7 linked regions of the Homo sapiens genome follow. The protein of the gene in region 7 purifies or fractionates together with the protein of the main gene of each other region. This does not show direct contact. Each region holds a gene or a part of one and is shown on either strand. Other genes may lie near its edges.

The links.
Region 1: the proteins of SLC38A8 (region 7) and TM9SF4 purify together in Homo sapiens (affinity purification with mass spectrometry; one large-scale study listed by BioGRID and IntAct). This does not show direct contact.
Region 2: the proteins of SLC38A8 (region 7) and GBA2 purify together in Homo sapiens (affinity purification with mass spectrometry; one large-scale study listed by BioGRID and IntAct). This does not show direct contact.
Region 3: the proteins of SLC38A8 (region 7) and DDX50 purify together in Homo sapiens (affinity purification with mass spectrometry; one large-scale study listed by BioGRID and IntAct). This does not show direct contact.
Region 4: the proteins of SLC38A8 (region 7) and FAAH purify together in Homo sapiens (affinity purification with mass spectrometry; one large-scale study listed by BioGRID and IntAct). This does not show direct contact.
Region 5: the proteins of SLC38A8 (region 7) and CDS1 purify together in Homo sapiens (affinity purification with mass spectrometry; one large-scale study listed by BioGRID and IntAct). This does not show direct contact.
Region 6: the proteins of SLC38A8 (region 7) and SURF4 purify together in Homo sapiens (affinity purification with mass spectrometry; one large-scale study listed by BioGRID and IntAct). This does not show direct contact.

The regions. Positions count from the first base shown.
Region 1 is NC_000020.11:32,154,125-32,158,750, reverse strand, and holds part of TM9SF4 (transmembrane 9 superfamily member 4 isoform 1 precursor), read right to left. Parts: intron 3,649-4,626; coding exon 3,565-3,648; intron 958-3,564; coding exon 782-957; intron 301-781; coding exon 237-300; intron 1-236. UniProt on the Homo sapiens protein: Associates with proteins harboring glycine-rich transmembrane domains and ensures their efficient localization to the cell surface.
Region 2 is NC_000009.12:35,741,978-35,746,603, reverse strand, and holds part of GBA2 (non-lysosomal glucosylceramidase), read left to right. Parts: intron 1-1,895; exon of another isoform or gene 1,896-1,897; coding exon 1,898-1,989; intron 1,990-2,191; coding exon 2,192-2,307; exon of another isoform or gene 2,308-2,385; intron 2,386-3,277; exon of another isoform or gene 3,278-3,311; coding exon of another isoform or gene 3,312-3,328; intron 3,329-4,626. UniProt on the Homo sapiens protein: Non-lysosomal glucosylceramidase that catalyzes the hydrolysis of glucosylceramides/GlcCers (such as beta-D-glucosyl-(1<->1')-N-acylsphing-4-enine) to free glucose and ceramides (such as N-acylsphing-4-enine).
Region 3 is NC_000010.11:68,939,315-68,942,814, forward strand, and holds part of DDX50 (ATP-dependent RNA helicase DDX50), read left to right. Parts: intron 1-1,745; coding exon 1,746-1,880; intron 1,881-3,500. UniProt on the Homo sapiens protein: ATP-dependent RNA helicase that may play a role in various aspects of RNA metabolism including pre-mRNA splicing or ribosomal RNA production.
Region 4 is NC_000001.11:46,407,350-46,411,975, forward strand, and holds part of FAAH (fatty-acid amide hydrolase 1), read left to right. Parts: intron 1-1,109; coding exon 1,110-1,235; intron 1,236-1,751; coding exon 1,752-1,849; intron 1,850-3,048; coding exon 3,049-3,148; intron 3,149-3,464; coding exon 3,465-3,505; intron 3,506-4,262; coding exon 4,263-4,302; intron 4,303-4,626. UniProt on the Homo sapiens protein: Catalyzes the hydrolysis of endogenous amidated lipids like the sleep-inducing lipid oleamide ((9Z)-octadecenamide), the endocannabinoid anandamide (N-(5Z,8Z,11Z,14Z-eicosatetraenoyl)-ethanolamine), as well as other fatty amides, to their corresponding fatty acids, thereby regulating the signaling functions of these molecules.
Region 5 is NC_000004.12:84,634,474-84,639,099, forward strand, and holds part of CDS1 (phosphatidate cytidylyltransferase 1), read left to right. Parts: intron 1-790; coding exon 791-878; intron 879-4,450; coding exon 4,451-4,519; intron 4,520-4,626. UniProt on the Homo sapiens protein: Catalyzes the conversion of phosphatidic acid (PA) to CDP-diacylglycerol (CDP-DAG), an essential intermediate in the synthesis of phosphatidylglycerol, cardiolipin and phosphatidylinositol.
Region 6 is NC_000009.12:133,360,531-133,364,205, reverse strand, and holds the end of SURF4 (surfeit locus protein 4), read left to right. Parts: intron 1-446; coding exon 447-713; 3' UTR 714-730; coding exon of another isoform or gene 731-742; 3' UTR 743-2,742; downstream 2,743-3,675. Other genes in the region: SURF2 (surfeit locus protein 2), read right to left, coding at 3,067-3,150. UniProt on the Homo sapiens protein: Endoplasmic reticulum cargo receptor that mediates the export of lipoproteins by recruiting cargos into COPII vesicles to facilitate their secretion.
Region 7 is NC_000016.10:84,031,670-84,036,295, reverse strand, and holds part of SLC38A8 (solute carrier family 38 member 8), read left to right. Parts: intron 1-2,826; coding exon 2,827-2,968; intron 2,969-4,327; coding exon 4,328-4,429; intron 4,430-4,626. UniProt on the Homo sapiens protein: Electrogenic sodium-dependent amino acid transporter with a preference for L-glutamine, L-alanine, L-histidine, L-aspartate and L-arginine. May facilitate glutamine uptake in both excitatory and inhibitory neurons.

The sequences.
Region 1 (4,626 bases), on a different chromosome or scaffold from region 7:
TCGGCCTCCCAAAGTGCTGAAATTACAGGTGTGAGCCACCGCGCCCAGCCTCATTTCACTTTCAATGCTGCCCTGAGAGGGAAGGCTGTTGTCCAATTTCAGGGTGAAGAATGGGGCTCCGAGAGGTGAAGTGGCCCATCTGAACTTTCTCAGGCAGTAGGCAGCAGAGCACCCGAGTGGAGTGGGAGTGACCCGGCTAGCATGGGTGGAGGGGTGGGGGAGGCACCAGTACTCACACTGAAGATGAAGAAGAGCTCGATGAACATGGCGCCGAAGGGCAAGATCCCAGCCATGAGGATGCTGCCACAGAACGAGAGGTTGACATTGTTAGAGACCAGGCCACCAGGAAGCCCCAAGCTCCTTCCCAAGCTGGCATGAAGAGAGAGCACCTACACGAGTGTGGTGGTGCTAATTCTTCTGGCATATTTCTGTACTATTATAATCTCTTGAGAGGTAGGCAGGGTGGGCATTATTCTCCTCATTTTATAGATGGGCAACTGGGGTGCAGAGAGGTGGGGTGACTTGCCCAAGGTCCAAGTGATGGTCTTAACCTGTCTCACTATACCCTTCCATCCTTCCCCTTCCTTGTCCTGGTTCCTAGGATGACACCAAGTCTGCCTACAACCTGGTCACCTTGATCTTGGAGTGAAGTTAAGCTTTCATAAACTCTATTAGAGCCGGCTGAAGCGGCAGGAACTCTGGTTGCCGCACCCTTCTGGTGGCGGAGGGGGGCGTACCCTCTTCCACGTTCCCCTGCTCTTGCCTCTGCTGGAGGACTCACCCCACAAATCGGTTCATGTACCACCGCTGCTCGGGGATCTGCCGGGGAATCTGGTTGGTGCGCACAGGGTTGTCATATGGCTGCTTTCGGAAGCCGAAGTAGTAGCCCAAGTAGACGAGGGGCAGGGAGATCCCGAACCACATGCACAGCAGAGCCACCATGGTGGGAAAGGGCACCTGTAGACATGGCACCATGAGGCCCCCACGAGGCCCTGATGCCCGGGATGGGGGCTGCGCAAGGGGGAGGGGACCTTCTGGGCTCCACAGAAGGAGAGGCGACTTGTGCAGCAGAAGCACACTCCCTGCCCCCACCACAGGGCTCCTGGCCAGAATCTCTTGAGGCTGACCCCAGCCCTGATCTGGACTCCCAGTGAAGAAGGCACCTCAGCATCCCAGAGGAGCTCACCATCCAGGGAGGAAGTAGGGGAGGAACAGGAAGGAGTGGACTGAGAACGTGAAGAGATGAAGAGGTCAAAATGAAGAGATTACATGTGGCACATTATGTGAAGAAAAGAAGGGAAAAAACAACACTGTACAAAGTGCTCCCAATCTTGTCAGAATAAAACTACATGATATACTATTAAGTGTAAAAAGGAGGCTATAAACTATGTGTATAGAAGGATTCCATTTTAATAAAAACACAACATAGTCGGTCCTCTGTATCCATGGGTTCTGCATCTGTGGATTTAATCAACTGCAAACAGAAAATGTTCAGGAAGGCCGGGAGCAGTGGCTCATGCCTGTAATACCAGCAGTTTGGGAGGCTGAGGTGGGCAGATCACTTGAGGTCAGGAGTTCAAGATCAGCCTGGCCAACATGGTAAAACCCAGTCTCTACTAAAATTACAAAAAAAAAATTAGCCGGGCACTGTGGGGGGCACCTGTAATCCCAGTTACTTGGGAGGCTGAGGCAGGAGAATCATTTGAACCTGGGAGGTGGAGGTTGCAGTGAACTGAGACCTTGCCACTCCACTCCAGCCTGGGTGACAGAGTGAGAGAGTGAGACTTCGTCTCAAAAAAAAAAAAAAAGAAAATGTCCAGGAAAAAAAAAAATACAATAAAATAAGCTGGGTACAGTGGCTCACGCCTGTAATCCCAGCACTTTGGGAGGCCTAGGTGGGCAGATCACTTGAGCCCAGGAGTTTGAGACCAGCCTAGGCAACACAGTGAGACTGTATCTCTACAATTTTTTTTTTTAATTGCCGAGTGTGGTGGTGACACCTGTAGTCCCAGCTACTCAGTGGGGCTGAGGTGGGAGGACCACTTGAGCCCGGGAGGCAGAGGTTGCAGTGAGCTGAGACCACAGCACTGCACTCCAGCCTGAGCAACAGAGTGAGACCCTGTCTCAAAACAAACAAACAAAAAATACAACAATACAAATTAAAAAACAATATAGTATAACAACTATTTACATAGCATTTACATTGTATTAGGTATTTTAAGTAATCTAGAGAAGAGTCAGAATATACAGGATGTGTGTACGTAAACACTATGCCACTTTATATATGGGACTCGAGCATCCTTGAATTTTGGTATCTTCAGGGGTCCTGGAACCAATCCCCTATGAATACCAAGGGACAACTGTATCTATTTATATTTGTGCCTGGAAAGGCCTATACCAAAGAGCTAACAATACTTCCTTAGATGGGATATGGGGGATTAGAACTGATTTTTCATTTTCTTCTTTATCCTCTTCTCTACACTTACTTTTTACAAGAATCACATAAAAAGAAATATATATATAAAGTGTTTAGAACAGTATTACTACAAAGCAAGCATCATATAAATGTTTGCTGTTATTTTATAAATTTTAAATTATGTAATTCTTTTGTAAGTATATCTATAAAAAGGAAAAAAGACAACATATATTAAAGACCTACATTGTATTTATCTCTGGGTGAGCAGATTTGGGGTTATTTTAAATTTCTTCTTTAACTTCTCTGCACTTTCCAAAATTTCTACAGTGAATGTTTATAATGAGCAGCTGGTAACTGGGAGGAAAATGCTCAAAGGGAGAAGGAACACAGGGATAAAAAAGGTGAAGTGAGAGGAAGGGCATGACTGTGTCTTGAGGGTGGCTTCCTAAGTTGCTGGGAAAGAAACCCCTCCTCTGTAAGCCTGGACGTGAAGCCTCATGCAAGGACCTTTACCGCCACCCCCAGGTGGAGGGCAGAGGGCTCTACGTGCTAAGGCTAGGATAGCAAAATGCCTGCCACATCTCAACTGCAGTCCTGCTAATTGACCAAGACCCCACTCCCCCTCCCCACAACTGAGTTCAAAATCCTCCTCAGTGAGTCTTGGACAGCTGCTAGTAACACACTGGACTGGGGCTGGCAGGATTCCCAGCTCTAAGGGTAATACAACCTGATCCTTCCTTTCCTCTCTCCTCCACCTGCAGGGGCTGGTGCTGAGGGGCAGGGACACTGAGGAGGACAGGCTTGCTTTGGGATAATGACCTAATAAACTCACACTGGGCAGCTCACTCTTGGTTAAGACAAAGGGAAATTCCCCAGTTGGCCGCTGGACTGTGGAAACCTCCCTTTAGAGAAGTGGGCTTGGGTCAGTTGACTGAAAGATCTCACAGGAAGGCCAGGGCCAGGGCATGACACACCAAGGGCAGGGCTGGGGAAACCCCAGCTGGCCCTCTGCCCTCATGGCTGGGAACGTAACTCTGGGGACTCAGAAAAGGGAAGGGAATGGCAGGAAGTGGCTTTTGGGAGTAGGGCTGAGTGCAACTGGTCCTCGCTTGCTGGGGAGGGGCTGGAAGGGTAGGGGAGGCACTTACCGCTCCTGATGAGTGCTTTCCCCAAATGAAGCAATTCAATACGAAGCAGATGCCAAAAACCACACCAGGGTACAGAGTTGCCGTCTGGAGCAAGAGGGGCCGGGTTGAGGAGCAGCATCCAGGGACCTCCCCTACCTGTCCCGGTGGGGCCCCCAGACCAGAAGCTCTTAAGCCCTCCTTGTCTTTCAGACTCTGCTCAAGCATCATTCCTTCCAGAAAGTATTCCCTGACCCTCAGACTGAGCAGGACTCTGTTCTATGCCCTCTCAGGTCCCTAATACTGCCCCTTCTTGCTCTCATCCCAGTTCGTAATTACATATTTTGGCTACCTGATCAATATCCGCCTATCCCCAAAAGACTGTGAGCTCCTTGGGAGGAGTGTGTCTACCTTGTTCTCTGATGTACTCTCATCACTGAGAACACGGTAACTACTCTGGCCAGGCGTGGTGGCTCATGCCTGCAATCCCAGCACTTTGGGAGGCCGAGGTAGGTGGATCACCTGAGGTCAGGAGTTTGAGACCAGCCTGGCCCACATGGCGAAACTCCGTCTCTACTAAAAATACAAAAAATAGCCGGTGTGGTGGCTCATGCCTGTAGTCTCAGCTACTCGGGAGGCTGAGGCTGGAGAATTGCTTGAACCCGGGAGGCAAAGGTTGCAGTGAGCAGAGATCGTGCCACTGCACTCCAGCCTGCGCGACAGAGCGAGATTCCGTCTCAAAAAAAAGAAAAAAAGAACACGTTAACTACCCAATATATACATATGTAAAAAAATTTTTTTTTTGAGGGGGAGAAAAATTACCTCCAGAATCGCTTGAGCTCAGGTGTTTGAGACCAGCCTGGGCAACATGGTGAAACCCTGTCTTTACAAAAAATTAGCCAGGCGTGGTAGTACGCACCTGTGGTCCCAGCTACTTGGGAGGCTGAAACAGATGGATTGCTTGAGCCCGGGAGGCAGAGGTTGCAGTGAGCCGAGTCATGCCACTGCACTCCAGCCTGGGTAATAGAGCAAGACTCTGTCTCACACACACACAAAAACCCTAAAAAACAACTTTAACAAAACACG
Region 2 (4,626 bases), on a different chromosome or scaffold from region 7:
ATTATTTTTTTTTTGAGACAGTCTTGCTCTTGTCACCCAGGCTGGAGTACAATGGTGCAATCTCAGCTCAGTGCAACCTCCGTCTCCTGGGTTCAAGCGATTCTCCTGCCTCAGCCTCCTGAGTAGCTGGGATTGCAGGTGCCTGCCACCACAGCTGGCTAATGTTTTTGTATTTTTAGTAGAGACGGGGTTTCACCACATTGGCCAGGCTGGTCTTGAACTCCTGACCTCACGTGATCCGCCCACCTCGGCCTCTCAAAGTGCTGGGATTACAGGTGTGAGCCACCGTGCCTGGCCGCTGTCCCTATTCATTAATCACATTTCTTCTCCTCTGCTCCAGTCTGTTATCTCTCTTGTGCCCCATCATTTGTATGTTCATTCATCTGTAAAATTGGCAAATATGCATTGACTGCAGACCATATGTCCTACCCTGTGCTTGGACCTGAGGGTAATATTCAGCTAGTCTTTGTCATTGTCCCTTTCCCCAAGGAACTTAAAAGTATGTCAGCCTCACATGAGGAACATTGAAATAACAAGGCAATGTCTGATTAGGAATTGAGATAACAGTTTGTATATATGAGTAATAATCATACCTGTACTTTATGGCTTTCTTATCTATTATGTCATTTGATCTTTCAACCATTTCATTAGATAGCTAGAGCAGGTGGTATCCCCATTTTGTAGATGAGGAAACTGGGACTTAGGGGTTACTTACCCAATTATTTGGTTAGAAGTGGTGTGACTGAACAGTAGGCATAATGTGGCAGTAGGCAGGAGAGTGGAAATGGGAAAGAGTCTGGCAGGGCAGGGGCTACTTAGTGAGGACCCATCTGGAATGAGAATTTGTAGGAAATAAGATTAGAAGATAGGCTGGGACAGATGTCAGAGCCTTGAAAACAGAATCGTTTGCCTATTGAAAACAGCCTCAATCATTTGCCTCTTGGATATAGGGCTGTACCAAGCCCAGGAAAATGTTGGGATTTTTTGAAGGCTTTACCAAGAGCAAAATCAGAAAGCTTCACAGTTTAAATGTTGAATTTAAAAAAAAAAAAAAAAAAGGCTTGAGAGGAAATGTCCAGAAATAAATATAAACACTGATTGTCTATGGGTGAGATTATTTTTTTCCCCCTTTCACCTTTCATAATTAGAAAGAAAAATGATCATTTTAAAAAGAAGAAAGGCCAGAAGCGGTAGCTCACGCCTCTAATCCCAGCACTTTGGGAGGCCGAGGCGGGCGGATCACCTGAGGTCAGGAGTTCAAGACCAGCCTGGCTAACATGGTGAAACCCCATCTCTACTAAAAACACAAAAAAATGTGCCAGGCATGGTGGCGGGCACCTGTAATCCCAGCTACTTGGGAGGCTGAGGCAGAAGAATTTCTTGAACTTGGGAGGCGGAGTTTGCAGTGAGCCAAGACCGAGCCACTGCACTCCAGCCTGGACAACAAGGAACGAAACTCTGTCTCAAAAAAAAAATAATAAATAATAAAAATAAAGATAAGAAAGTTATTCCCAGCAGCCTATGCCTGTTTTGGAGGTAGGGGATTGGGGGCGGAGGCTGTAGGCCAGGAAACCATAAATGGTCCTTTCAGCACGTCAGACAGAAGCTCCTGATGTTGGAAATAAAGCAGTGGTGGTGGTGCTAGAGAGGTAAGGAGAGATCAGAAAGCCCCTTCTGAGGAGAACAAAGGAGAGAAACAAAGCCACTCCTTCACTTCAGCTGGGGTGACTGGGAAGATGAAGGGACCTTGAACTGTATAGAAATCAAGAGGAAGAAAGGTTTGAAAGCAGATGTCCTTGGGACATTTAATGGGAGGTCACAGAGAGAGGCAGGTGACTCAGCCTGTGAACAGCTGCCCACCTGCCCCCTTCCACTCACATTGCCTCTTGCTCCTCAGGTACCTGCAGTGGTGGTACCGGAAGACCCATGTGGAAAAGAAGACACCTTTCATCGACATGATCAATTCTGTACCCCTAAGACAGATTTATGGTGAGCCCCACCCCATCTCTGCTCTGCTCAGAGAAGGCCTAGCCTCCAGGTCTACCACAGTTAGGAAGAGACTTCCAGCTTATGCAAATTGCACTGTTCCATCCCCTAGGTTTTCAGAGGAACCAGGCTTTATAGTCTAGAAAGTTAGAAATGGGCTTATTTTCCTCTCCCAATACCCCACTAACCACCCTGATTTCTCTAGGTTGTCCCTTGGGTGGCATCGGGGGAGGCACTATTACCCGTGGCTGGAGAGGCCAGTTCTGTCGTTGGCAGCTTAACCCTGGAATGTATCAGCACCGGACAGTCATCGCTGACCAAGTAAGAGCCAGGAGGTGGAGAGGCCAGGACAATACCTCCCCAGGCCAAGAAGGAAGGACCTCTTGGCTAGTGTAGAAGGTAGCAGTTAGATGTGAATAAGATTCAATCTAATAAGTACTCTCGGGATGCTTCCTGTGTGCCCAGCCCTGAGCTAGGATATACCGTAGGAATAAGACACACACAAGCACACATTCCTTGAAAGAGTAAACAGATCTGGCATTTCTCTAGTAAATGCCTCCTGTCTACCTCACTGCCCCAACCCAACTAGCTGAGGCAGCCCCCAACCACAGAGAATGCAGAGAATTCCCAAATCACTTAACCTGCCTGAAAGAACATTTTGTAGGACTGGAAGGGAAAAGAAAACCCAAAGTCTATAAACTCATGGGAAAAAAAGACACGTAGTACAAGGTTCCTCACCCTGATTGAGGAACCTTCACCAAAGTTCAGCTCCTCTGCTGATCACTCCCCTGGAGGTCTCCTGGCTTAGGGTCTAAAAAGCTCCTTCTCTCCCAGGCTTAGATCTCTAGCCTTCTTCCCTCTTCTGAAGCTTCACTTTTTTCCTTTTGCTCCTGCATCACATCTGGGCCTTAAATTGCCAGAAGTATGTGTCCTGCCTCTCATCATCTCTCTCTAGTTGACCGCCCCTTTAGAGTTGCCTAGGAAGTTCCTCTTTCTTGGCTCCAGCATTCAGCCTCATCTTCAAAGGAAAAATGACTAGCAAATCTTTAGTCCAATTAATGACAATACCCTTCCTGGTTCACGTTTACCAGCCCTGCCCATGTCCCAAGATCCCTCTCTGCCTCATCCCTTAGGTATCCTGAGGGGAATGGCTTCCAGAATTGTGACTCTACAATTAAAGTAATTATTGCATGCTTAACATGTGCTAGACACTGTGCTAGGCTCTTTGTATACTGTTTAATATTAAAAACAATCCTACAAGGGAAGTACCACTATTATGCTCATTTTGCAGATGAGGACACTAAGATCCAGAGAGGTTTAGTAACATGCGCAAGGTCACAAGGTTGGTAAATGGAAAGGTTGGGATTCAGAACCATTTCTTTCTGGGGTGAAGAGCTTGTGGTCTTAACCATTATGTACCATTCCAACAAAATGAAAAATTATTTTATACAGTTGTCCCTCAGTATCCATGGGGGGTTGGGCCCAGGACCTGCTATCCGAGGATGCTCAAGTCTTTGATTTGAAATGGCTTATAGTATTTGCAAATAACCATTGCACATCCTCCTATATACTTTAAATCATCTGTAGATTACTTATAATACCTCATACATTGTTACATAAACCCTTGTTGTGCCGTACAGTAAATAAAGTGTGTACATATTCGGTACAGACACAACTTTTTTTCCACATATTTTAGATTTGGTTGGTTGAATCCACTGATGTGGAACTCACAGATATGGAGAGCCCACTGTATACAATAAAAATATTTGACATAGTTTGAACCAGGGAAAGGGATATTAATCCCTCATAGCTCCTACCCTCCAAGAGCTAAAACTTTTTTTGAGAAAATAAGACTTAGGGGAAATGGAGACTGTGAGACCACATCAGTGCTAAAAGGAGAGGGGTGGATAGTATACTGTGGAAAAAGGGACGGTGCTGCAGATTTCGCTCATTCCCTCCACATACATGCCAACTCTGAAGAAGGGTGCATCAGTGAATTAAAAAATGTCCCTACCCTCAGAAGAATCCATACAGCAGTCAGGGACACAGAATGGTCAGTCAATACATTATAACATAATACACCAAATGCTAGAATAGAAGGGGAGGGGGGCACACATAATGACTCACTGCTGGAAGAAGTAGAGGAGGAAGAGATGGCTTTTGACCTAGGCTTTGAAGGATGAGAGGTTTCACCAGATAGCGAACAAGCATGAGCACAGGCATGGAGGAGAGAATGTAGTGTGCTCAAGGAACAGTGAGTGTTTTTATATGAACAGACTATAGGTGCTTGAACAGGTGATGAGTCTGATGGGCAGGGAGAGGCCAGCTCAAGAAGGGCCTTGAAAGCCAGGCAAGAGTTGAGACTTTAGCCTGAGGGCCATGGGGAGTCACTGAAACATCCTAACCAAGGACTGACATATCTTGATTTGCCTGTGAGAAAGATCACTCTGCTACCCAGATGAAAAGGGCCACAGAAAAAGCAGGAGATTGGGCTTAAGTGAGGTGCTAACACCACCGTAGTGGAGAAGGGAGAGAAAGCTTGGGAGATAGATGGATGGGGAGGTAGCAGGACTTGGTGATTCACTGAGCCTGGGGGATGACTTGAAGCTGATGGTGCAGTGGTAACAGTTGCAGGCTCTG
Region 3 (3,500 bases), on a different chromosome or scaffold from region 7:
TTTGAGCTAAGAAGTACCTAAGAAGTTATTTAGTCTCAACTCTCATCCAATGAAGAATCCCTCTTTGGCAGATGGGTCATTTAATCTCTGATTAAATATCTTAGAAACAGGGTGTTAGTGGCTTTAAATTTCTTTCATGGGTTAAACCAAAATCCAGTCTTTATCAGGAATGTCCTATAGGCTTTTCCTCTTGCTATCTTCTTGACGTCATGTCTTATCACTCTCCCCTTTCTTATTTCAGCCACCCTAACCTATTTGGTTTTCCTCAGACATAAACTTAACTATTACACAAGGCCTTTGTACATACTTTCATTGTCTTGAATGTTCTTCCCCTCTAATAACCATGTTGCTTCCTCCTTTACTTCATTCTGGTCTCTGCTCAAATATCATACCAGAGAGGTCTTTCTTGATCACTCTAAAATAGCTTACTCCTCCCTATACTCTTTGTTCCCTAAGCCCTGCTTTATTCCTGTTCGTGACGCTTATTACTATATGATATTCCATATATTTGCTTTTTTGTTTACTGTGTACCCCCCCACCCAACCCCACATACAGGTGTAGGTACATGCACATGCACTAGAATTTACTGTCCATGAGAGAAAGGACTACTTACTGCTGAATCTCTAGCACCTAGTACAGTCTGTGGCACATACGTAGGGCGCACTCAATAAATATTTGTTTGCTGAATGCATCCCCATATCTTCTTAATGTTGATTCTTTTGCTGTTAGTGAAGCTTTACAGAACAAATAATTTTTGCTTATGTAACACTCCTTCAAAAGTTTAAAGAAATTGTTCAGGCATGGTGGCTTATGCCTGTAATCCTAGCACTTTGGGAGGCTGAAGCAGGCAGATCACTTGAGTCCAGGGGTTCAAGACCAACCTGGGCAACCCCGTCTCTACTAAAAATACAAAAATTAGCACGGCATGGTGGCACGCACCTGTAGTTCCAGATGCTTGTGGGGCTGAGGTGAGAAGACTGCTTGAGCCCAGAAGGTTGAGGGTGCAGTGAGCTGAGATCGTGCCACTGCATTCCAACCTGGGTGACAGAGCGAGACCCTGTCTTAAAAAAAAAAAAAAAAGGTTAAAGAAATTTATGTTGTATTTACTTTTTATTTTTTTTTTGAGACAGGGTCTAGTTCTGTCACCCAGGCTGGAGTGCAGTGGTGCAATCTCGGCTCACTGCAACCTCTGCCTCCTGGGCTCCTGGGCTCAAGCCTCCCAAGTAGCTGGGACTGTAGGAGTAGGCCACCATGCCTGGCTAATTATTATTATTATTATTTTTGTAGCAATGGTTATTTCACCATGTTGCCCAGGCTGGTCTCAAACTCCTGGGCTCAAGTGACCCTCCCGCCTCGGTTTCCTAAAGTGCTGAGATTACAGGTGTGAGCCACCACACCCAGCCAAGGTTTTCGTTCCAAGCTGACTTTGACTCCTTCAACATTTCCTTAATTCTTCACTACCTTGTTGTCTTTCTTGGCTCTGGTTTGCTTAATTCTTAATTCTCTCTTAAAGCATAATGGTTAGAATTAAATAGAGTCTTACAGCAATACATAGGATAGTACTTTCAATTATCTATAAACACTATTCTTCTAATAATGTAGTTTCAAAAAAATTTTTTAGCTGCAATGTTATACTTTTGGCTCATAAGAAATGCACAGTTAAGTCTTGAAGGATTATAGAGTTAGAATTTCATTGTACTGCTGCTGATTTATTTCCAAACATAATGTGGTTTTTATTCCTTAAGGGGTTTGTGACCATGACTCTGGAAAGCCTAGAGGAAATACAGGATGTCAGCTGTGCTTGGAAAGAACTTAACAGAAAGCTGAGTAGTAATGCAGTGTCTCAGATTACCAGAATGTGCCTCCTGAAAGGAAATATGGTAGGCTTTTCCAGACAATTAAAAAGCTTTTTAATCAACTACCCCAAATGTTTACAAACACTAGCAAATTTTGTTCTTTCTCTTTGAAGCCTAATGGCATGAATAATGCTGTTTTTTCTCTGTTAGTTTGTTTCCAGTTATAAATTTGGGGCATTATATATGTAACCCATTCCTCCAGAGCTGTAAGTCATTCTGTTCAGTTTGACTATCTAATACCCAAATTATCTAAGTTTCTGCCACATACTGTATGTGGTTGTGTACATGTGTTTATTCTCTTTTTATTTTTTAAATTTTATTTATTTACGACTTTATAGTGATGAGGTCTCACTATTTGCCCAGGCTGGTCTTGAACTCTGGGGCTCAAGTGATCCTCCTACCTTGGACTCCCAAAGTACTGGGATTATAGGTGTGAGCCACTGCACCTGGCCTTTTTGTATTATTATTATTATTATTTTTATTTTTGAGACAGAGTTTCACTCTTGTCGCCCAGGCTAGAGTGCAATGGCACAATCTCGGCTCACTGCAACCTATGCCTCCTGGGTTCAAGCAGTTCTCCTGCCTCAGCCTCCTGAGTAGCTGAGATTACAGGTGCCCGCCACTATGCCCAGCTAATTTTTGTATTTTTAGTAGAGATGGGGTTTCAGCATGTTGGCCAGGCTGGTCTCGCACTCCTGACCTCAGGTGATCCTCCCGCTTCTGCCTCCCAAAGTGCTGGGATTACAGGCGTGAGCCACCATACCCTGTCCATGTTATTATTATTGTGATTATTATTTGGTAAAGATGGGATTTTGCCATGTTGCCCAGGCTGGTCTTGAACTCCTGAGCTCAAGGGATTCACCTGCCTCAGCCTCCCAAAGTGCTGGGATTACAGGCTTGAGCCACTGCACCTGGCATGTGTGTTTATTTTGTAAGACTAAGTAGCTTATGATTGCAGTAGTTAAACAGCTCTATAATTTTGAGGACATGCAGTTTGGTTTTTAAATGGCCTGCTCTTTGTTGTTAATGAATTAATGATATGAATTAAATAAATACTTTAATACATTTATATAGCAAAATTAAAACTGTAATCTTGTGACTGATTTCTTCTAATGGTTTTGAAAAATGATGTTATGTTATTAATTTAACTTTACTGCATAGGTTCATTCTAGCTTGGAATTTATTAACTAGATTGTTTATTGCAAATAATCATCTCTCTCAAAGTTTAATATTACTTGCCTTGTAAAAGGATGTGGGGCAAGTATGAGACAAATATATACTTTCAGGAAAAAAATGTAGAGGGGAGGGAAAAAATAGCAAGATCCATAGGCCAAACTAGTTGCTATACTTGAGTATTAAATTAACTTTCAGCTTATTGACAACTAAGACCATAGAAGAAACATCTTGGGTTATATAATTCTTATTATCTAACAAACATTGCAGCTTTTTTCTTTTTTTTTTGAGACAGGGTCTCACCCTGTCACCCAGGCTGGAGTGCAGTGGCGTGATCTTAGCTCACTGCCACCTCCGCCTCCCAGGCCCAAGCGATCCTCCCACCTCAGCCTCCTGAGTAGCTGGGACTACAGTCATGCATCACCACACCTGGATAATTTTTGCATTTTTTTTGTAGAGATGGAGTTTTCC
Region 4 (4,626 bases), on a different chromosome or scaffold from region 7:
CTTAATCCCCATGTTAAGGATTGGTGGGCACAGCAGGGTGTGGATTTTGAGGCGAGAGGTGTCAACCGATGCTTCCTGTTGAAGAGTTGGAATGAATCGGAAGGTTATTTGTGTTATGTGTGTTATTTGGAGGAGGTGGGGGAGTGGCCAGTGGTCATCTTCCTCCCAGCTCATCCCCTACTGCGGGGCATCTGAGACCAGTATTTTGCTCTCTTGAGTGTTCTGGTTGTGCTCTGGTCCTGGTACTCTCTCTCTCTCTGTCTCTGTGTGCGTTGGGGTTGAAGGCCAGAAACAGCCAGGTTGAGGCTGGGGCCAGATGTCCCCAGTGAGGCAGGTGCTGGGCCCTAGGTCATCCTCTGTGCCCACTCCAACAGAGTGCAGGAGCTGTAAAGTTAGATTGGTGCAGACAGAGGAAGAGTGAAGTCACGTTAATGTAGACAGTAAGCTGTGTGACGTAAGCCCCGTTTCTCAGCAGTCCAGCGATTGTCTATCTTGTACAGACCTCTTGCCCTCGCCCCAGCCAAGGTTGCCTTGGAAAGGCTGAGGGTTTGTGGACGGGAAGGAGAGTGGGCCTTGGTGTTTCTTGGGAGTGGGGCAGCAGGGCAGATCTGGGCTGGGTAGGGTGAACTCCCCCTCCCCAGGCAGAGGGAGATATTCTAACCGAACCCACGGGGATAGGCAGCCGTGAAGTCCTTCCTCGGAGGAGAGGAGGAGATGAGGTCCCTGTCTGGAAGTCTGGAACAGTTTATCATGAGAGCCAGGACAGGTGGTGGAGAGCCTCAGCTCAGAAGACAGGATGCCTGCATTCCAGACCTGTCTTGTCACTCTGCATTGGGTAGCTTTGGGCAAGTCCCAGTCCCACCTAATCTCCCTATTGAGACCTCAAGCCTCAGTTTCCTCATATGACCAGTAGGAATCCTTATCCTTGCTCTGCCCACCTGAGTCACTGTGAAGGTGTTTTATGAAAGGGTCAGATGCAGAAGGGGCTGGCCTCGCTGACTGCAGCCTCGCAGCTGTGTCTGGGGCTGAGTAGTTTCTCTGATCTCTAGGGGTCCTGCCTAGGGTTGTCTTCTCCTGACCTGCCCCTGTCCCCTGTGTTTTCCCTCCAGGTCTACACCAGCTCTCAGCCCCTGCGTGTGGGGTACTATGAGACTGACAACTATACCATGCCCTCCCCGGCCATGAGGCGGGCCGTGCTGGAGACCAAACAGAGCCTTGAGGCTGCGGGGCACACGGTATGACTGCAGGGTCCTGGAAGTACTGGCATCTCCTCCCCTCACGGGAAGCCTTCCTGGTACCCATGGCTACTCCATCCCTGGCATCCTGGCACTCTGACGATGTTGTCGTCGGGGTGAACTGTGACCCTGTGGGACAAGTATATAGAGGGCTGATCAAGAGTATTGGAGTGAGTGATTGATGGAGAACTTTAGCCCTGTGCTGTGTGATGTGTGAGCACTGCATGTGGGGAGGCTCTTCAGCTCTAAACAGTGGTGCACAGCTGTCCAGAGGCTCCCAGGGCCAGTGGGTTTTGGTCTGGTCATTACACAACTTTATGTGTGGCTCCAGACTTCTCTCATGCTGTGCATTCCACAGTGAGTTTTCATGGGTCAGTAAGGCTGCCTTTGTAGCTCTAGTGAGAGCTATCTTGTGGGCAGGGTTGGTCCAATCCATCCTCAGGGCCGCCCAGACAGCATGGGGATCATGAAGCCAGTTGTTAGGTCAGGAGGCCTTACACCCCTCAATCCCTGCAGCTGGTTCCCTTCTTGCCAAGCAACATACCCCATGCTCTGGAGACCCTGTCAACAGGTGGGCTCTTCAGTGATGGTGGCCACACCTTCCTACAGAACTTGTGAGTGATAGTGGGCTTTGGGGTCTTGGTGGGATCAGACAAGTAGGCAGACCTGGGGGAGCAGCAGGGTGTGGTGATGCCTGGATGGGCCTTAGCTGAATCCAACAAAGGCCTGAGCACTCTGGGCAGGGACCTCGCTGTCCCTCCAGCTGGGCACATTGAGCCTGGAGATCCCTTGCCAGGGTGCCAGCCCGAGGGGAGGCTGGGTTGAGTATCTGTGGCCTACCCCTGATCTGAGCTTGTTGTGAGGTAGGAGGTGGGCAGGAGGTTGCCTCTCTGTTTGGGAAGGATTTGGGCCAAGGGCAGGATCCAGGCAGGAGGGTGGGGGTTTGGACTTGATGCTGTGACTCCAGGCTCTGTCTGACTTGAGCCAAGTCTTCTTTTTGAGCAGGACCTCAGCTTTCTCTCCTGTAAAGTGGGTGGGTTGGACCAGACTCCCTTTAAGGGACTTTGCAGAGCTCATTTTTAGAGAAGTTCGTTCCTCTGGGATGCTTCTAGTCATTAAAGGTGTCAGGGGCAGAGAACAGGCCTGCAAAGGTGCCTCCTGGTGACATACCTCTGCTGGATGGACTGGAACCCTTCAGAACACAGTCCCCCTTCCTCCACTTCACTGATGGAGAACTTGGCCCTGCAGCCTGGAGCTTGGCCCTGCAGCTTCACTCAGTCAAGGGCCCAGCCTGTCATGTTCCTTTCCTTCCCCTAGCAGCCAAGTGTGGTCCAGGCTTCAGTGGAAGGGGTCACTCCTCACTCTGGCCCTGGGAATGAGTCCCCAGGATCAGCTGCCTGAGACCTTTCCCTGAGATCTTGAGCCAGAGATAGCCTCAGAGCCCTGCTTCATGGGCAGCCCACCCTCGATTTCCCCACCTGTGCCTCCAGGCTGTACCTCCCTAAGGGGAGGTACCCTCAGGGAGGCCTCATCAGGGAGATGTTGCCCTCAGTTCTTAGAGCTCTGAGCTGGGTTTGCTGGAGAGGGATACCCTGAGTCCTGCCTTGGGGAGCTCCCGTGGATGTGGGTTGCAGCCCAGGCATCCCAAAGGATCAGCAGAAACAAACGGCATGTTTGGAAGGAGGGAGCTGAGTCTGGTGAGGAGGAGGTGGACAGGATCCCTGCATAGAGAATGGGATTGCTGTGGGCCGGGCGAGCAAGCTGGGAAGGATGTGGGGATGGGAGTGCCTGGACCGAGCATTTTGTTTCCCAGCAAAGGTGATTTCGTGGACCCCTGCCTGGGGGACCTGGTCTCAATTCTGAAGCTTCCCCAATGGCTTAAAGGACTGCTGGCCTTCCTGGTGAAGCCTCTGGTGAGGGCACAAGGAGTGGAGGGGCTAGGATGGCTGGGGGGGAACCTAGGGCCTCCTATCGCATGATCCCCCATGGCCTCCCTCAGCCTCTCTTGGTTTGGGCAGGCATGGCCTCCTCTTCTCTCCAGTCCCCACCCAGACTGCTCTCCTCCTCTGTCCCCTGCGATCTTCAGCCAACCCGCATGCTGAAAGGGGTGCCGACCTGGGCCCTGGGGGGAGGCATGGAGGGAGGGGTCCCCAGTGGCTTGGCCTGAAGAAGGTTGACGTCTGCCGTGGCCCAGAGCTGAGTCACCGACCCTGCGTCTGTCCTGTGCAGCTGCCAAGGCTGTCAGCTTTCCTCAGCAACATGAAGTCTCGGTAAGGGTTCTTCTGTGTCTAGCTGCCGGCCCCTGCCTGTCCTGATCCGAGTCTGGGTCTGGGTAGTTTCTGACAGGAAAGGACTTGAGGGAAGTAGCCTCTGAGGCTGGAAGTGGCCCAGGCAGGGGGGCAACCTTTGTGGCCTTCAGATGGGACTTTGAAGTTGTCTTGGCAAGGTCCAGTTCTGGCTGGAGAGCAAAGGCCTGAGGGGGACAAGAGGATGGGGGAGTTGGAGGGGAGGAGGTTGACCTGGCTGGGGCATGAGTGGAAAGGACCAGGAAGTGGGGGTTGGCCTGGGCCAAGGGTGGGGCACCCGGGAGAGATGCCACTGTTAGAGATCTGAGCTGACCTGAGCTGCGCCAGGCCCTACTTGCCCCTTAGTGGCTGGGGCTGGAAAAGCAGGGCGTAAACCTCCCTGTTTCATGCCCTGACGTCCCATGGACTCACTCCTTCCCTTACCACCAGGCTTCAGGACTGGCAGCAGCTATGGCCTCTCCCGTGTCCTGAGGGTAGCGAGGAATCGGGCCTGGGCTAGTCCTGGCTCTGCTGTGGAGTCACCAAGTGCCAGCCTGTGCCCCTCTGGGGCCTGATTTTCTCATCCAGACAGTAGGGGTTTGAACTTCCCTCTCAGAGCTCCCATGGGGTTGTGAAGGGTCCACGGAGGGGTGAGATCTAGAGGGTTGGCAGTAGGGGTCTGATGTTGCTGATCTCCGTGGCTGTGACCATCATGGCTGGTGACCACACTCCTTCTGCCCAGTTCGGCTGGAAAACTCTGGGAACTGCAGCACGAGATCGAGGTGAGGCCAGAGCCTCTGGATTGGAGCAGGGTGGTGGGGGGAGGGTGGAGTTGGACAGGGTACCCGCTAGCAGTGTCTCGTGGCCACTGCCCCCATGGGGCTCCTAGACTGGCCTGTCATCCCCCTTCCACTCCCTGGACCACCACTTGGGCCCAGCTCTCTGACCCTTACTTGCCTAGATGCCCATCCTTTGAGGCTGGGTCAGCCCCAGGCTCCTGTCCTGGCCGCCTTTTTGCCCCTCTGGAGCTGCCTTTGTGTGGCTCCGCCTCAGCGGGAAGAGGTGTATCCACAATTCATTCTGGAGGCAGAACGACTGATGCCCTC
Region 5 (4,626 bases), on a different chromosome or scaffold from region 7:
TTACTTAAAAATTAGTTGGAATGGAGAAAAAGCTTAAGATTAAAAAAAAATCTGACTGTATTTTTCCCCCACTCATTTAAAACTCATTAATTAAAATCTTTTACAGTTGATGGGTTTTGTCAAGATAAATTGTATTCCCTTGACAGCTTTATGTCTTTTTACCAAGGGTGTGGTTGTGTCTTTGTGTGTGTGTGTCTCTGTGTGTATGTGCGTGTGTAAAGTAATTGGAATCATTTTAAGATTGTCTTTCATGTATTGTACAGACTTTTCATTGATGGGGCAGTTACTGAAGTAAGTAGGTTCTGTACATTCAGTAGGGTTTACTGAAATCATAAGCTAAGATAGAATTAAAATTAATAATTGAGAATATGTATTAAGAGCTTGATATAAATTTATCAGATTATGTTCTGTCTAAAGAAATGACTCATTTTCATATTAAAAGGCTGGTTTTCTTAAGATTAGCTTTCAGTCTGCCTTTTATTTTTTATTGTAACATGTTCCTCATAAAACTAAAATGAAAACATCCATAACTGTAGAAATCAATAATTTAATATTTTCCTAGCATGCTAGTTTATTTTTAGATTTTGCTCTGTTTAAATTGGTAAGTGGGCAAATTTGGTTGATATTTATCATTTCTACTGTTTTGGCAAGTGTTATGTTCTGGGTAGGCTGCAGTGCAATCCAAAGGGTTATTCTGATGGTTCATTATGAATCATAACCTTTCCGAATATCTGCCACTTACTCAGGTGAACTTTTTTCTGCTGACTTTTTTTTTTTTTTTTAAAAACAGGTTCCTTGTTCCAATATCAAGTGTTATCTGCAATGACATAACTGCTTACCTTTTTGGATTTTTTTTTGGGAGAACTCCATTAATTAAGGTAATGGAAAAATTTTATAAGCAAGCCACTATGTAACCTTAAAGATTAGCCACTGGAGAACATTTCCAACAACTGTGCTGTTGTGCATTTTTTATTTTTGAGGTGCTTTGATTTTCCTTAGCTGCATGGTGCAGAAGCAGCAAACCATATTTCTCAGTACTTCCATCTGGGTTCTTCATCAGCTCTTCTGTTGGCTCCTCAGGAAGGGCATGACTCCATCAGTCTGCCTGCCTGCCTGCCTGCCTGCCTGCCTGCCTGCCTGCCTGCCTGCCTGCCTTCCTTCCTTCCTTCCTTCCTTCCTTCCTTCCTTCCTTCCTTCCTTCCTTCCTTCCTTCCTTCCCTCCTTCCCTCCCTCCCTCCCTCCCTCCCTTTTCATCTTCATTTTATCTTTATGTGGTTTCTTTTCTTTCCTTTTTTTTTTTGAAGATGGGGTCTTGCTTTGCCACCCAGGCTGGAGTACAGTGGTGCTACCATGGCTCACTGCAGCTTCCACCTCCCAGGCTCTAGCAATCTTCCCACCTCAGCCTCCCGAGTAGCTGGGGCTTCAGGTGCATGCCACCACACCCGGCTAATTTTTGTATTTTTGGTAGAGACAGAGTCTTGCCATGTTGTTCAGGCTTGTCCCAAACTCCTAGGCTCAAGCAGTCTGCCCATTTCAGCCTCCCAAAGTACTGGGATTAAAGGCGTGAGCCACCGCCCCTGGGCTCTGTGGTTTTTTCTCTCGGCCATTGGTGCAGTTCTTCTTTATCCTCCTTTCCAGCAAGCCTATACACAAGCCTTTTCCTTGACTCTCCTCTCCCTTCAACCTGTCGCCTTACCTGTCCCCTCCTTTACCAAACTTTCTCAAAGAAGAGATTATATAATACACCTTCACATCCTCATATCCATTTGTGTGACTTTTCATATCCAAACTCATACCAAAAGAAGATTTTGGGGCCCTACAATAAAATACTAATAAAATACAAGTAATAATGAAAGGGAAAGGAAAATACACATGAGTAGACCATGTTGTTTTGCTATAGAATTGGTTCTATTTATGGGCAATGGTAAAGAAGGAAATGAACTAAATTACATAGTTCTCATTTGGGAGAAGAAATAAACTAATTCTTCATGGAAATCAAATCATTTTCTAGAACTGATTTCTTCTAAAAGAGCTCTTCTTTATTTTTGTTTAGTTTTTATTCGTTTTTGGAGACAAAGTCTCGCCCTGTCACCCAGTCTGTAGTGCAGTGGCGCAATCTGGGTTCACTGCAACCTCCGCCTCCTGGGTTCAAGTGATTCTCCTGCCTCAGCCTCCCAAGTATCTGGGATTACAGGCGGCTGCCACCATGCCTGGTTAATTTTAGTATTTTTAGTAGAGACAGGGTTTCACCATGTTGGCCAGGCTGGTCTAGAACTCCTGACCTCGAATGATCTACCTACCTCGGCCTCTGAAAGTGCTGGGATTACAGGCGTGAGCCACCACACCCGGCCTAAAAGAGCTTTTCATGTTGGAGTTTCAGATAAGATTCACACATTTCACATTATTGGGCAAAGTTTTTAATAATGTTCTCACAGACATATTATTACCTGGCTGTTTTGATATTGTTATATGAATGCAGTTTTGGAAGGACTGAGACAATTGTTCAGATATAAAGCCTTCTGTTTGTTCAGAGTGGTATGAGGGTAGTTTAGTATTACCAGAGGAATTTGTGGACTGCCTGTTCTTCCAAAAACCTCTGTAAACTCTTCCCCTCTTGGGGAGGAGCTCACAGAGAGCACCTGCTGAAAGCATCAGCACACAGAGAGTGTTGGGCTGAGCTGTATAAGGATACTGGTAAGCAAGCTGTATATTTTTAAAACGTTTCTAAAGCTGCTCCAGAGTTTCTAAAGCTTGAATACATGATTTACGTATTCAAGAGTTCTACCCAGACTGAGAAGTTTTCGGCTTGGGAAGCTGTATTAGTTCATTCTCACACTGCTATAAAGAAATGCCAGAGCTTTAATTGGCTTATGGTTCTGCAAGCTGTACAGGAAGCATGGCTGGGGAGGCCTCAGGAAACTTATGATCTTGGCGGAAGGGGAAGCAGGCACATCTTATATGGTCAGAGCAGGAGGAAGAGGGAGAGTGAGGAGGTGCCACAGACTTTTCAACAACCAGATATCATGAGAACTCATGGGACAGCAATAGGGGGATGGTGCTTAACCATTAGAAACCCCCTCCCTGACCCAGTCACTTCCCACCAGGCCCCACCTCCGACACTGAGGATTACAAGTGGACGTGACATTTGGGTGGAGACACAGATCCAAACCATATCAGAAGCCTTCAAAAAGGCTGTTATAGCTGTGGAAGAATATTAGCAACTGATTTTGAACACAGCCTTCTAGTGAATTTATCAGGCTGGATTAATTGTATAATATACTTAGATAATTGAACAGTTAACCCCTAAATCGATATGATATGCATCAATTTAATTTGATAAGCTATCTTTACAATAATCAGCAGGCACTTTTGAATTTGAGTCTGCTCCTACTTCATGGCAGTGATAGTGAATTACCCTAGGAGAAGGTGTGTCTGTCCCTTCTCTGTGGCAGAATTGTTATCAGATTTGTCAAGAAACCATTTCTGCCAACTGTTTTGGTTTGGGGCTTTATGAATATCAGGACAAGAAGTCTATGAAGAGCTCCTATAGGTTAACCCATAACCCATTTTAATACTTCAGAGACTTTATTCTGATATTTGGTTTCTGTCCCTCATTAATGACCTGATGACCAAATCCTCCCACACATCACAGTCTTTATCTCCCCTGAGCAACAACTTTCACTTTTTGCTCCTGAATCTTTTCCTCCTGCCCCAACACCACTAACTTCTAGATTTTTTTCCAGATTTCTTTCCATGAATGGTCCATTGACTGGGCAGCAATAGCCTGAATCCAACACAAACAATATCTCTTCTTTGAAGTGCAGCATGTTCCTTTCTTCTTGGAAATGGACATAGATTGTGAAAAAAGAGAGGATATGTCAATACTTGAGCAAATACAGTATCTGGGGCTCTGGAGTATTTTGCCATATCAGAAGGAAGTCTGTGTGTATATAGCATATTAGGAATATGTGAAAATTATATGTGCTAAAATGTCCATGTTTTGTTGTACTGATTCTATTTTTGGCCAATAGCAGGTCAATACTGACTGTGTGTACTTGGAATGAATACGTCTCATTCTTATTCCAAGAACTTACACCAACTATTATCAGGTTTTATATTAGCATAAGAGTCATGGGACAGTTATTTTAGTATAGAGTTTATACTCTTTTGAGAGACAGAACAAATTTAGACCATTTAACATGAACAAACACATATTCACAGCATTTCAAATATTTGAGGGCCTACTATGTGTTTAAATATTATTAGAGAGATTTTCACTAGTAAATCAAGATCAGAGAAAAGGAAAAAGGGTTTTGAACTATTCCAATAAGAGAAAAAGTAAGGAGAGATGTACAAGTTATTGAGGAAATAGTTTATATATATATATATATATATATTGTGAGTTTTGTGAGTGCAGTAAAGCTTTTTAATTTTATTTGCCCTTTTTTAGTTGTCTCCTAAAAAGACTTGGGAAGGATTCATTGGTGGTTTCTTTTCCACAGTTGTGTTTGGATTCATTGTGAGTATTACTAAGATTTTTATTTTGTATACATTTCGAAATATGATACCAAGCTTACTGGTCTAATTTTAAACCTAGAAAAATTAAACCACAAAATGCTAATAATA
Region 6 (3,675 bases), on a different chromosome or scaffold from region 7:
GTGTCAGGTGTCAGGGGCAGGCCTCCAGGAGCTTCCAGAGCACACCTCCGGAGCTGACTGAGAGCCCTGGCCGGGTAGTGTCCAGGAAGAGCTCCTGGCGCCATGGAGAGAGGAGAGAGGATGTTTCTGGCCTGGATGGCTGGGTGGGCCAAGAAGCACTTGGGAATTTAGTTATGGATTAGAGATTCATCTTGGTAAATCACAGCCTGTTACTAGTTGGGAACTTCAGTCTTCCCCAAACCTTCCACATTTCAAAGCTGGTGCTTTATTGCCTCCTGCCTCCCTTTGGCTTTTATCTCCCTACTTGCACCAGCAGCCGTCTCAGCAGTAGCTACATCAGCCTGATGGATAGAGACTTCATGACGTGCAGCAGCTGGAACTTTTGTTTATAAAGCATCTCTTTTCCTCACATTTATTTTGAATTTCTTACGTTTCAACCTATGCAGATTGTCCAGAACATCGTGGGCACAGCTCTGATGATTTTAGTGGCCATTGGTTTTAAAACCAAGCTGGCTGCTTTGACTCTTGTTGTGTGGCTCTTTGCCATCAACGTATATTTCAACGCCTTCTGGACCATTCCAGTCTACAAGCCCATGCATGACTTCCTGAAATACGACTTCTTCCAGACCATGTCGGTGATTGGGGGCTTGCTCCTGGTGGTGGCCCTGGGCCCTGGGGGTGTCTCCATGGATGAGAAGAAGAAGGAGTGGTAACAGTCACAGATCCCTACCTGCCTGGCTAAGACCCGTGGCCGTCAAGGACTGGTTCGGGGTGGATTCAACAAAACTGCCAGCTTTTATGTATCCTCTTCCCTTCCCCTCCCTTGGTAAAGGCACAGATGTTTTGAGAACTTTATTTGCAGAGACACCTGAGAATCGATGGCTCAGTCTGCTCTGGAGCCACAGTCTGGCGTCTGACCCTTCAGTGCAGGCCAGCCTGGCAGCTGGAAGCCTCCCCCACGCCGAGGCTTTGGAGTGAACAGCCCGCTTGGCTGTGGCATCTCAGTCCTATTTTTGAGTTTTTTTGTGGGGGTACAGGAGGGGGCCTTCAAGCTGTACTGTGAGCAGACGCATTGGTATTATCATTCAAAGCAGTCTCCCTCTTATTTGTAAGTTTACATTTTTAGCGGAAACTACTAAATTATTTTGGGTGGTTCAGCCAAACCTCAAAACAGTTAATCTCCCTGGTTTAAAATCACACCAGTGGCTTTGATGTTGTTTCTGCCCCGCATTGTATTTTATAGGAATAGTGAAAACATTTAGGGACACCCAAAGAATGATGCAGTATTAAAGGGGTGGTAGAAGCTGCTGTTTATGATAAAAGTCATCGGTCAGAAAATCAGCTTGGATTGGTGCCAAGTGTTTTATTGGGTAACACCCTGGGAGTTTTAGTAGCTTGAGGCAAGGTGGAGGGGCAAGAAGTCCTTGGGGAAGCTGCTGGTCTGGGTGCTGCTGGCCTCCAAGCTGGCAGTGGGAAGGGCTAGTGAGACCACACAGGGGTAGCCCCAGCAGCAGCACCCTGCAAGCCAGCCTGGCCAGCTGCTCAGACCAGCTTGCAGAGCCGCAGCCGCTGTGGGCAGGGGGTGTGGCAGGAGCTCCCAGCACTGGAGACCCACGGACTCAACCCAGTTACCTCACATGGGGCCTTTTCTGAGCAAGGTCTCGAAAGCGCAGGCCGCCCTGGCTGAGCAGCACCGCCCTTTCCCAGCTGCACTCGCCCTGTGGACAGCCCCGACACACCACTTTCCTGAGGCTGTCGCTCACTCAGATTGTCCGTTTGCTATGCCGAATGCAGCCAAAATTCCTTTTTACAATTTGTGATGCCTTACCGATTTGATCTTAATCCTGTATTTAAAGTTTTCTAACACTGCCTTATACTGTGTTTCTCTTTTTGGGGGAGCTTAACTGCTTGTTGCTCCCTGTCGTCTGCACCATAGTAAATGCCACAAGGGTAGTCGAACACCTCTCTGGCCCCTAGACCTATCTGGGGACAGGCTGGCTCAGCCTGTCTCCAGGGCTGCTGCGGCCCAGCCCCGAGCCTGCCTCCCTCTTGGCCTCTCATCCATTGGCTCTGCAGGGCAGGGGTGAGGCAGGTTTCTGCTCATAAGTGCTTTTGGAAGTCACCTACCTTTTTAACACAGCCGAACTAGTCCCAACGCGTTTGCAAATATTCCCCTGGTAGCCTACTTCCTTACCCCCGAATATTGGTAAGATCGAGCAATGGCTTCAGGACATGGGTTCTCTTCTCCTGTGATCATTCAAGTGCTCACTGCATGAAGACTGGCTTGTCTCAGTGTTTCAACCTCACCAGGGCTGTCTCTTGGTCCACACCTCGCTCCCTGTTAGTGCCGTATGACAGCCCCCATCAAATGACCTTGGCCAAGTCACGGTTTCTCTGTGGTCAAGGTTGGTTGGCTGATTGGTGGAAAGTAGGGTGGACCAAAGGAGGCCACGTGAGCAGTCAGCACCAGTTCTGCACCAGCAGCGCCTCCGTCCTAGTGGGTGTTCCTGTTTCTCCTGGCCCTGGGTGGGCTAGGGCCTGATTCGGGAAGATGCCTTTGCAGGGAGGGGAGGATAAGTGGGATCTACCAATTGATTCTGGCAAAACAATTTCTAAGATTTTTTTGCTTTATGTGGGAAACAGATCTAAATCTCATTTTATGCTGTATTTTATATCTTAGTTGTGTTTGAAAACGTTTTGATTTTTGGAAACACATCAAAATAAATAATGGCGTTTGTTGTATGCAGTGTGATCCTATAGCGTTGCCCAGCCTGAATGGGGCTCCCCTCAGGATGCCAGTGAGCGAGGTTACTTCTCTAGGCTTCTCTGAAGACCACTCAGAAGCCATGTCCAGAGAGAATTAGTCCCTCAGAGTCCCTGCTGCTTCCTGGGTGTGGGGGACAGACTCCCTCAGCCCTGCCTTAGAGGGCAGCAGATGTCATGAGACAAGGATAAGTGGGTAGAGAAGACACTGGGGACAGCCGATCATTCAGAGGACACACGGTTTGATCAGGAGCGGGGGAAATATCTGAAGGCTTTCTCGAAACTTCACGGCATGTGCTTTTATTAACCTGGCTGTTTACAGGAGCTGAAGCTCTTGGGTTTGCGGTGATGACTCTTGAACTTCTTTTTCAACGAGCCCAACTGCTTCTGTGGGATAAACAAAATTCTGATTACTGAGCCTTTCTGATCCCATGGAGAAGGGGCCCTGGAGTGCAGGGCTCTCCCCACCCACACAGCCTCAGAGGTGTCGGTCAAATACCCACAGAGGCTTTCTCCACCCCCGTTTCCTTAACAGCTGCAGGATTAGACCCCGCTCAGCAGGGCCTCAGAGGAGTACAGTGCAATGCCACACACTCATTAGGACCTTGTCCTCTTTTGGCCTTGGTCCTGCTTATCTACCAAAGGCGGGGAAGTCTCCACTCCTGCCCTGATGGCAAAGGCAAAGGTGGTGGCTAGTAATCAGGTCCCTGTGCCCAGGGGTAAGGACAAACACGCCACAGCTCATAGTCTGAGGTAGGAGGGTGTCCTCACAAACCAGTGGTCTTGACCGTGGTCCACAGAGCCTGGCTTCCACAAGGGGCTGGCTGGGAAGCAATGGTAGGCACTCACGGCCTTCCGCCAGCCAGCGGCCTCGGCTTCTATGGTTCTTGTGTGTTGTTGGCTTGGGATTTC
Region 7 (4,626 bases):
TTAGCTGCATCTTGCCAATTTTCATATGTCCTATTTTCATTTTCACTGGACTCATTCCTCATGAATGGAAAATTTAAAATATTTGCTCCTTTTCACTGTGGTTTCTTTGACTTGTGAGATGTTTAGAATTGTAGTGTTTAATTGACAATTATTGAGGAGTTTTTTAGATTCCTTCACGGTTTCGACCTTAATTTGCATCATGGTCAGGGAGTCTGTATCATTGCTGTCTTTTGAGATCCAGTGAGACTGGCTCTGTAGTCCAGCACATGGTCTGTCTTGGAGAACACTTTGTGTGCTCTTCAGAGAATGTGTACTCTGCAGTTGCTGGGTACAGTGTGCTGGCAATGTCCATTAGGTCAAGGCAGTCAACAGCTGTGTTCAGATCGTCATTGCAACCATATTAATCTTTAGGTCTAGTTATTCTATTCCTAAGAGAAGGATGTTAAAGGATGTTAAAATCGCCAGCTGCGATTGCAGATTAGCCTATTCTGTCAAGCTTCATGGTTCGTGGTCTTTGAAACTCTAGGTATATCCTTTTATTATGAAGTATTCTTTATCTCTGGCATTAAATCTGTCTTCTCTACCATTAATAGAGGCACTCTAGCATCCTTAAGACTAGTGTTTGTATAGAAGTTCTCTTCTCATTCTTTGACTTAGAATCTAACTATGACTTGGATTATTTTTTTGTTAAATGTGTTTATATGTCCTTTTTGCAACACCAGCCTGAGAATGGCTTGGGATTTTAAAATGCATTTCTTGTAGGCAGCATATGGTCGGGTCTTGCTTTTTTATCCAACTTGACAGTCTCAGACTTCCGATTGGAATGTTTAGACTTTTAATTGGCATGTGATTGTTGATAGGGTGAAATTTAGTGTACCATTTTGCCATGTGTGTGTTCTGTGTGTCTCTTGACCCATGAAGCAAAAGGCCCCTGACTGGGGGGTATTGAGATTGAAGGCTGCTGTGTCTTGGTAAACACGACCTTATACCAAGAAGAAGTGAGATTGGCGTATCTGAACCTCTTAATGGGTAAGTGGGCACAAAAACGTCCTGCTCCCCCACAGTGGCAAGTAGAGTTCGTCTGCAGTTTCAACTCCACTGAACTGGTAGCGTTGCTGTGTTAAGAAGGATTCTGAGCCTCACTGGGAGCGGAGCCCCCTGACTAGTCAGAGGACGGATGAGGATACGGGCCACCCCAGGTCTGGGTTGATTGACTGTGGTGGAGAGAGCGTTCTTGTGTATATCTGGTTAGATATTTGGGGATGCCTCTCTGTAGGGAAGGCCAAGCTTCTGAGACGGAGTGCTAGATAGAGGTTGGAGTGCTTGGGGGAGTCATGGCACGAGGTACAATTGACCATGTCTTTGGTGCCAAAGATCTCAAGCATCCGGGAACGCTGGGTTTAGGAAGGAGCTGGTACAGTCCTGCTGTTGGCCCTGAGGATCCTGGCTATGGGAGGTCCAGATGCAGACAAAGGGCCTGCCCCATCCCACGCCACCTGGAGGTCTAAAACTCACCCACGATCTCGGTGCAGTCCTGGGGCATGTGCAGTCCCTTGGCATCTCGGCTCTCCCACGTGGATGCTGCTGTGACCACCTGCTTTTGGAACTTTCCCCTTCATCATTTCGTACGCTTGAGCTATTCTCACATGCATTCATTTTTTCACATGGCTCCCCTTGTTGAGTGAGAACAAAGAAGCACTTAAGACACCTCAGGGCCAACAACCCACCGAAGGAGCGAAGACATCTCAAGCTCCTCGGCCTCCCATCTCCAGTGGTTGCAGGGGCCACCTCACCCACCCAGGTGGTTCCCAGTGGCTCCCACCTCCAACCACCCTCCCACTCGCCTGTGCTTTCCCCTCCCCCATCTGTCTTACCTCTTAGATGGGTTCCAAATCATTCATCCCACTGTGGCAGAATAAAAATGGCCCCACATTCTTTGGTGTTCTTTCCACGGAGAGGTTAGTGGAGCTTGTGTCCCTTGCCTTTGAATTAGGTGTGCCTGGATGGCTTTGTCCAGCAATGTGTGGCAAATGAGACACTGCCCATTCTGGGTCTGGCCTTTAAGAGGACAGGCAGCTTCTGCCTCAGTCTCTGGGGTCCCCCAGCTGCCATGGAAGAAGTTGGAGGTGCCTGCTAGGTGGCCCATGTGGAGAGACTCCCAGACTGCAGGGAAGGCCCAGGTGTACCCATCAGGCAGTAGGTGTTGTGGGGAGCCATCAGGGTTCCTCCAGACCAGCCCCACTGCCAGCCAGAGACCCCCCAAGCAACCTCAGCCAATTCTATATGGAGGAGGATTGGCCAGCCTGGCCCTGTACTAACTCTCTACCTACGATCCATGACTTGTAATAAAGTGGTTTTGAGCCACTGCATTTGGGGTCATGTGTTCTGCTGCAACCATGAGGACCTACAATGCTCATGCACAGCAGCCTGTTGCTGACGGCACGGTGGCCAAAAATCGACTTCAGGCCCCCATTTGACTCCAGATACTATTGAGTTCCCGAACGAAACCAAAAGAGTCTTTCACCAGAATGTAAGGGGCACGAGGGCAGATGGCTTGTCTGGTCATCGCCTCATCTTGGGCCTTAGAGCAGTGCTGGGCTTGGGGAAGGAGCCCAGCGAATGTTTGTTGAATGAATTCATGTGTCAGGGTTTGTTCCTGCGTGGGGCACGTGACCTGTCTCCATCTCACTTGTCGTCTGATCCCTGGGCTCCTGGGGCTGGCTGAGGGTGGATGTCCAACCCCAGCCAGGGTTGAAGGGCCAGGTGGGAGCCGAGAACCCACGGCATTTGTACTCTGTGGCTCAGCTCTCCCCGTGTCTCTGGCAGTGTGTGACTCCCTCCTGTCTGGCACCCCGCCCGCCCCGCAGCCGTGGTACGCAGACCAGCGCTTCACCCTGCCCCTGCTCTCCGTGCTGGTCATCCTGCCCCTGTCTGCCCCGCGGGAGATCGCCTTCCAGAAATACACAAGGTAAGGGCTGGGATGCTGCCTGGTGGGGGCCCCCACCTTGCTGAGTGTTTGTGTCAGGGTTTCTGTCCATCTGGGGTCAGAGGAGCTGGGGAATTGGCCTTCACATTTGGAGAAGGGGAAAACGAAAAAAAAATTATACAAGTAAAATGTATGCATGATGCAAAACATAGATGAGCCTAAAGAAGAAAATGACCTGTAACAACGTCAGTGCTACTCAGTTTATTTCATTGTTGGATTTTTTGCACATGGCTGCAGAGAGAGAGAGACGCCTCCCCACAACACACACCTACCCACACCCACACATACACACCCACCTACCCACACCCCCCCATGCACACCCACCTACCCACACCCCCCCATGCACACCCACCTACCCACACCCACCCATGCACACCCACGTACCCACACCCACCCATGCTCACCCACCCACACATGCACCCCCATCCCCGCATGTCCCCGTGCCCATGCACGCACATGTGTGCACACACACAGAGGTTGTTTTTTTGTGGCTAAGGGTCTGTATACTTAGGAAGAAATAAAGCTTGGAAACAGTATCCATCTCCCTCTGCTGCCTGCCTTTTCCCTGTTGTGTATGAACAATAGACATTGTATAGAAACAGCAGGCAGCAAACCCGAGCCTCCCTCAGGTCTCTGCCCTGCAAGGCTCTCGTGCCACTCAGACCAAGCCAGGGGGCGGCTTGTCCCCTCTCAAGTGTGAGCGAGCCTGCTGGCGTCCTGCCTTAGGCATCAGGCTGAGTGGCTGATTAGCTTTTGCTGGTGGGAAGGAAACACTATTACAGCTGCCATCCCGAAGGGCGCCGGGTGCCATTAAGAATTCTACACATTTGGGCTGGGCGTCACACCTGTAATTCCAGCACTTTGGGAGGCCAAGGCAGGCAGATCACGAGGTCAGCAGTTCAAAACCAGCCTGACCAACACGGTGAAACCCTGTCTCTACTAAAAGTACAAAAATTAGCGAGGCGTGGGGGCGGACACCTGTAATCCCAGCTATTCGGGAGGCTGAGGCAGGAGAATTGCTTGAACCCGGGAGGCAGAGTTTGCAGTGAGCCAAGATTGCGCCACTGCACTCCAGCCTGGGCAACAGAGCGAGACTCCGTCTCAAAAAACAACAACAACAACAAAACAACAACAACAAAACTCTACATCTGACCCCTTGACCCCAAAGCAGCCCTGCCCCACATGCCCCCTGTACAGATGAGGATGGTGAGGCAGAGGTGGACAGCTTGGCCAGCACCTCATTGTCAAGGGCGGAGCTGGGATTCAGATCCCACTACTGTCCCCGTGCATCAACCGCACATGTCACCCACTGCGCAGCCCCTCACACGGTCACTGTGTTAGCATCCTAGGCACTCTGGCTGCCTGTTACCTGGCCCTGGTCATCACCGTGCAGTACTACCTCTGGCCCCAGGGCCTCGTGCGTGAGTCCCATCCTTCACTGAGGTAAGTCTGAGGGAACAGCTTCCGGCAGCCTCGGCGGGGAGGCACGGCAGGGGAGTCTGTGAGGGGAGTCTTGGAGGAGGAGCCTCTCGTGGCTCACTGCAGAGCCTGGGCTCCTTCCTTCCAGTTCTTTCCGTCTCTGATGCGGTGAAGGCAAGGGAGGGCCACTCTCCTTCTGCTGCAGGGACCTGGCCGTGGCT